Linked DNA regions of Homo sapiens: region 1 is reported to be linked to region 2. The links are microRNA targets in miRTarBase. Many come from high-throughput screens and were not tested one by one. Region 2 holds a microRNA gene; the other region holds the end of a gene's coding sequence.
Evidence for each region. The annotated mature microRNA hsa-miR-218-2-3p reads CAUGGUUCUGUCAAGCACCGCG and lies in region 2 at 1,716-1,737, shown strand. An mRNA with a match to its seed (bases 2 to 7 or 8) in the 3' UTR can be bound and repressed. Matches are read on the target gene's strand: a 7mer-m8 pairs with bases 2 to 8, a 7mer-A1 pairs with bases 2 to 7 and ends in A, and an 8mer does both.

Region 1 (3,306 bases), not on the chromosome of region 2:
AATTACCCAGAGAGGTTGTTAAAATGCAGTCCTGGGCCCCACCTTGCAGAGATTTGGCAAGTTGGGGTAAAACCTAGAAATCTACACTCTTAATCTTTATTATTAGAGTTGCTTAAAATATATTTGTATTTCATGGTTGTGTCAGCATCAAAATACATATCCAAAGATATGTTTGTACATTACTATAAAAAAAATTTTAAACTGGCTACAGCACTTTCTGAACTGCAAAGTAACTAAAAATGGTAAGATCACCCTGTTTTAAAGTTTCCTTTATTTCTTTAGATCTTTATGAAACATTCCATCGTTTGCAGATCATAGTGCTTTATTAACAAATTCATGTGTTCTTTTCCCATCCCTTTAATACAAAAAAATTATTCATCAGTTATTTTCATCTGACATTTCACTAAGTACAGAATGCATAATGTCAACATTATTAGATCAGCCATTCAAGTGGGTCACATAAGTTTATCCTCATTGTGCCAAATACCCACTCAAAGGATAAGCTGAATAACAGATGCCTCCAGGTGTATACAACAACCTTAGTTTCTTGACTTGAACTAGTCCTGTTTAACAGGTCAAACTGCTAGTCTTTCTAAGTAAACTAAAAAAGACTCAAGTACACAGCTGTACATACATATCATCAGATGGTAAGTTCATTTCAACAAGAACCTCTATAACTAACTGTACATTTGTACAGTTTTCTGCTATCATTGCAAAAGCCCCTCTGAACAAACTTATAGTTTAGAATTTAAAACAATCCTGATGAGACAAAACGTACCAGGTGGCTTTTCTGTAGCAGAAATTAATTACAACCATTTTTCCTCAAGCAATTTTAAAGACAAACAAAGTTGAAAATAAATATGCAAGCATACAGTAAACAAAATGTCTATACTGAGAAATTCAGACACAAAGCACAGTGGAGTCTATAACTGTAGAAGTTAGAAATACAAACTAGCAATGAAGCAACAATCTCTTCCAAATAGCAGGAAACAAGTTCTCCAATACCATTATTTAGATAATTATTTAGTGATTTTGGAGTTTTTTTTTTAATCCCGTTTGCTGATTATGACATTTGACCAGAATCTCAAGAAATACCTTAAATCATACTGCATGAAATAAATGACCATTTAATTCCTGATTAGTTGAACTCCTTAATGACTTTTCAGTTTTGTATATAATAGAAAGGTTCAAGAACCTTTGTAGATTTGCTTACAATTGCTGCTGGTATTTATGAAAGCTTTTAAAAGTTATGTTATATTCTTCTGCATCTGTTGATTCCACATTAATGTAATTCTCAAGTATTTTATAAACAAGCCTTGGGTGTTAGAATGGTCTGTTTCAAATTTTCAGGCATGCTATTTCGACTTACTTACTGCAAGGTATCACCCCCCTTTCCTCCCCTCCACTATAAAAAAAAAAAAAAAAAAAGGTGGCAGAATGGAGACAAATTTCCAGATTTAAGTAAAAAGAAATTTAAGATTTTCCCAGGCTTGGATTACAATCCTTGGTGGACAGGAATGCCAAGTATATATGCCAATTGTTAAACGTTTTATGAAATTAAACATGAAACGAAAAGAAAATGAATTCCAGCTAAATCATATTAAGAAGGAACGAGACATGAGACATATTAATAAGATATGACACATTTATCATCCATAATCAAACAATTCAAATCCCTGACTGAAATTGGCTTGAAAAATGATACAAACTCTATGGCTGCTTTAAAGGACTGTAAGATAACATGTTTTTAAAGCCTATATAAACCACTGATGCACTTTTATATACTTTATATTCAAAACTAATCTATGGAGCTCATTCCATTCCATTTAAAATAGTAAGTCCTCACATATTTGTGGTTACTTTTACAGTGTTTTTAAAAAAGGAGTACTGCTAATAATTTAAGACATCCTAAAGACAGAATAGGTGTGAAGGCTTCTTTTTATATTTGGGGTGTTTTAGGTAATTTTTAAGAACTTAAAATTATTATTTGTTCCTCCTTAATATGAAACTCTTCCAAAATACCTTCTGACCAGTAAGTAAATGTTCCTTAGGCACTGTGAGGTGTATTAATGATGAAGCATGAACCCAGGCTGAGAAGTGTACAATTTGATTTTAACTACTGCCAAAACAGTTAACAAGCTCTGTCTTATCCACTGACAGCAGGAAATGTCTTTACCCCACTACTCCTGAGATTCTAAAAAGGGAAAACTAATTTCACAAACAACCTTTAAAAGAATCCATAGATGATTCTAAGAACAGCACATATTCAGGGTATTAGAAAAGATGTTTTCTTTTGTAAGGCATCAATGATTAAAATAATAGAACGCATATTTACTAACAAAAGATGGTTAACATTATCATAAAACCATTTATCTTTTTAAACTTCTCTAATTCCTGCTAATTTTGCCAGCTTAAATAAGAAATGAATGCCTCTTGGCCTAATCAACTATGGTTATAAAAAACTAAGACATCTGAAACTATTAGGCACATCAAAGGTACGGCTTATGTAATTCAAGGTTCCCTTCTTAAGGGGCAGGTGAGTTACCTGGCACATTATACATATGGAACTGTGAAGATCATCTACTAAATTCAACTTTCACATTTTTAGTCAAACTGAAAGACTTATAGTAAATATTCAAACATACCATATCTTCAGTTACAACCGAGTAAGTGTAACATTTTACCAGATAAAAACCTGGAACTTAAGTATGAGAAACCTTCATATACTGTGCTCGTATTGGTCTCTTCTTTTTAGATGAAAGCCAGTCATCAATACTTTCAACACAGCAGTTTAGAAGATAAACGTCCAAAACAGTTGACTTGGTTGTAGTCCATAATTTAGCAATTCAATGCCACTGGCATTACAGTGCTGTGGAGCGCAAGTGTATCTCTATATTTCAGTCAGATTTGTCTTTCTTCTTTCCTGTTAAGGGCACTTTGTTTACAACAGCAGACCCAACAGCTGTAACACCTCCAGCCACAGCAGAGACACCCCCTTTCACCAGCCCTATTCCCATGGAAGGCACAGTTGTAACAGCTGTTTTGGTCACTTCCAGACTCTTTCCACCAATCCAAGCCACACCACCAATGGTGGCACCAACAGCTCCCTTTGTAACACTGAAGATACCCCCAGTCACACGGGACAACATGCCTGGCTGCTGCTGTGGGTGATCTTTCATTGAACCTAATGAGAGAAAATATCATGAGACAATCAAATATAAGTCACAAGTCTTTAAAAGAGCAGTACACATCATTAAGTAACCTAAGACTTCCTCACAACAGGAGGTTGATTTGATAAGGCCAACC
Region 2 (3,306 bases):
GATAAATTGAGGTCCACACAGCAGAAAAATCTTATCTAAGGTATTGAGTATTATTTTTAGGGCAAGATCTGAAACCCAGGACTTCTGACATACTGTGAAGACTCTTGATAATTTACCTACAAATCCCTCCATTTCTTTTTGTAGGAAGAAACCAAAGAGAAAGAAAATTAGATTTTAAGGCTTGGTGAGGGTGGCGGTTTGCACGAACAGGATGGATTTCCCCTGCTCTTGTACCAGGGTCCTAATCAAACTCACATTTGAAGTCCCAGAACCACAGTGTTCACAGAGCCCTGCATAGGTGTCAAAGCAGAGTGGAGTCCAGATTCTAGTGGCTGACTCTAGTGCGTGTGATGAGAGACCTTAGGAAGGAGGAGAGGCCAGACAGACCCAGAGCTGTGGGCTGGCTCTTCCTAACTGGTCCAACATGGCAGACAACCTATGCACCGTTGAGATGCTGAGACCATCTAGAGGATATGCCCAGTCCCAAAAACACATAGTGGAAGAATGTTGATACTGGTTCTCATGTCAGAGGTCAGGCAGGGAGGGTCTCAGTCACTTAGCCTTAGCTCCAGTTTCTTCAAGATGCACATCTCCAGCCTAATGCCAAGTGGGAGGAAGTCCCAAGTCAGCAGGTTCATGGAAACTGACCCTGATCTATCACAGAGAGGAATATAAAAACTGGGTACCCTCACCTGGGCCTTTGGCATCCTGACAGTGGTTATTGGTTCATCCTGTTCGCTCCCATAATTTCCAGCTAAGGAAGAGAACAAGAAATCAAGAAGGACCCCAGAATTCAGTGTCTTCCCCTCAGACTCATCACTTGGCTTCCCTTTCCTTCCTTCTCTTAGTCTCAAAGAGGCCCTTCATCAGGAGGCGCACTGGCCACCATCTCTGTGAAAGTCAGTGTTCTCAAACAACAACTATGATTGCAGGTTCCTCAGTCCAAACCCTACGGCCCCATTTGTTTTCCTGTCTTTCTCTCTGGCTAGAGAGATATATTTTCTTTTGACACCCCACTGCTCCTCTATTAAACCTCAAATGATCTGGGATGAGTGTCTATCAGCCAGAGCATTCCTGCTGACCTCAAAGGATATAAAGGAGACTCCTGAATTGTGGAATGTCAAAGGGGGCTTTTTCCTAAAGAACAGCATTGAAGGTTTGCTAGACCACTGGGAACTGTGGATTGTCTCTTGACTTAAGGGGCTAGAGGAATGACTGTGATGGAACCACTCAGCTGTTGGGGGGATTGGGCCTATGTTGCAAAGCATGCAGAAGATGCTTTTCTAAGTTTAATGTCTTGTCAGACCAACTGGTGTGACTGAATGGAGTTTAGAGGCTCAATTCAGGCATGTGATAGGATCACAGATGTCTGAGTGTTCTTTCTTTCCTTGGGAAGGAACCATGCTGTCCTGAAGCTCCCGAGTATGGGCATCCAGTGATTTCCCTCCCGTTCTTCTCCCTTCCTACTGTGTCTCCCTGGGGTGGGGCACAAGGGCAGCAGGGCTGCAATCTTCGGAAGTGTTCCAGTGGAACCCCACTCCTGATACTAATCACGCTCAGTGGGGGCCTGCTCCGGCTTCCGCTTCTCCACGCTGCTTCCTCTGAGCGCTCCTGTCCTCTCTCTGACGCTGCTTCCTGACCTTGACTCTGACCAGTCGCTGCGGGGCTTTCCTTTGTGCTTGATCTAACCATGTGGTGGAACGATGGAAACGGAACATGGTTCTGTCAAGCACCGCGGAAAGCACCGTGCTCTCCTGCAGCATGGCCCGCCACCGCCGCCACCACCGCTGGACACCTCTCCTCTGCTCTGGAGCACCGCAGCCCACCACCTGCCAGACCCACCTCTCCCAGTCTCAACTCACCAAAGGCAGGAGGGTAGGAGTCTCAAAGGATGCAGATACAGAGGGAAATGGGTCTGGAGAAGCACCCTGGGGAAAGAGATCTGTATCCACATCTCTTTCCCAAAATGGAGTCACCCTCCCCCAAATCTAGTCTGGATGTCAGACAAGGAGTAATAACTAGGTTCAAGCTCAGAAACTACTGTGTCTCTTCTTCCACTGGAAGGGAACAAGTATACCCAAGGCATACGCCCCATGGTTTCATGGGAGAGTCCCAACCCAAGGTCATTTTTCCAAGTGGCAGCTAACCCAAAGGGGAATTCCTACTGCTTGTGACCCCCGACCCCTCCCACCACCACCTTTATTGGTATTCACTTTATTTGAAATGAACGTCAGCATGAGAATGGGTGAAACTCATGTGAGTCTGAGACTTTGGGTTTAACCCAAGGTTCCTTCTGAACCTCATTCCCATACTTTATGAAAACACAGTCCCTGAACCCCATGAAACCTAAAGTCCAGTCTGTTTCCTTGACCTGCAAAGCACAGTTAACGTGGAGGTGCTGGGCTCCTCACCTGGTGCTAATTCTGTTTCAGGGGAGGGGAGTGTGTGTGGACGTGGAAACCTGCTATCTCTGATAATAAAGAGAGGGATCTTGGTACCTCTTATTTTGCTTGTTCCTTGATAAATCCTAGACCCAGTGTAACCAGAAGACTGTGTTGTTCATTCCTGTCCTGGAGTCTTTGTCCTATTCTGCAAGAGAGAGCTAAGGTGGGAACTTTAGCCTAGCTCAGAACTAGAAGCTGAGCCCTGGGCCCCCATCATGAGGTGTGACTCTTATTACCTCGTCTATCTGAGGTTACCCCTCAGAACCAGGAGCCCAACCATTGCTTAGTAGTTTTTTAACATACATTGAGTGCTTGCTATAGGCCAGGCAGTGAACTGTTTTCACATCATTACCTTGTTTAATGTTCACAAAATCTAAAGTCCCACTTTACAGATGAGGATATTGAGGCTCAGAGAGGTTAGCTAACTTACCCAGGGTCATCTGATTCCAGAATGGCTGCACTGTACTGCTGTAATACCCACCTTCCCAGCTGTGGACAACCCCATTGCCTTGAATTAGAACATTTAAAAACTGTGATTTGATAGGGACTTGAAATTTGCTTAAACTCTCCCTTTCAGACTTTCATCTGTTAGTAGAAAGAACTTGAGTAAGAGAGAAAGCATTATTCAAATGGCTGTTCCTCTCCAGCATGGACATACAAAGATCCCATTTAACACAGAGCAAATCCTCGAGCCTGGAGAAGTTCCCTTTCCCACCTTACAGAGAGGGGCATTCTGAGGCCCTCGGCACTGCCCCTAACATGGCAGGGACCAGGCCTCTGGGAGTGGGTCCATAATGGTGCCCTTCCATCAGTGCTTTACTGGCCCCGCAGCCACAGGCTGTGATGAGGCAGTGCCAGCCTC

Region 1: miRTarBase lists TMEM263 as a target of hsa-miR-218-2-3p. Seed matches in the 3' UTR shown: 7mer-A1 at 2,448-2,454.

What each region holds. Positions count from the first base shown.
Region 1 is chr12:106,970,983-106,974,288 of GRCh38, reverse strand. TMEM263 (transmembrane protein 263) reads right to left here. Exons shown (of 4, transcript NM_152261.4): 4 at 254-3,184. The coding sequence ends at 2,898. Among named protein-coding and RNA genes, the nearest start is that of MTERF2, 15 kb to the left of the region's middle.
Region 2 is chr5:168,766,599-168,769,904 of GRCh38, reverse strand. MIR218-2 (microRNA 218-2) reads left to right here and starts at 1,650; the gene lies at 1,650-1,759. The region is part of intron 14 of SLIT3 (slit guidance ligand 3); the gene reads left to right.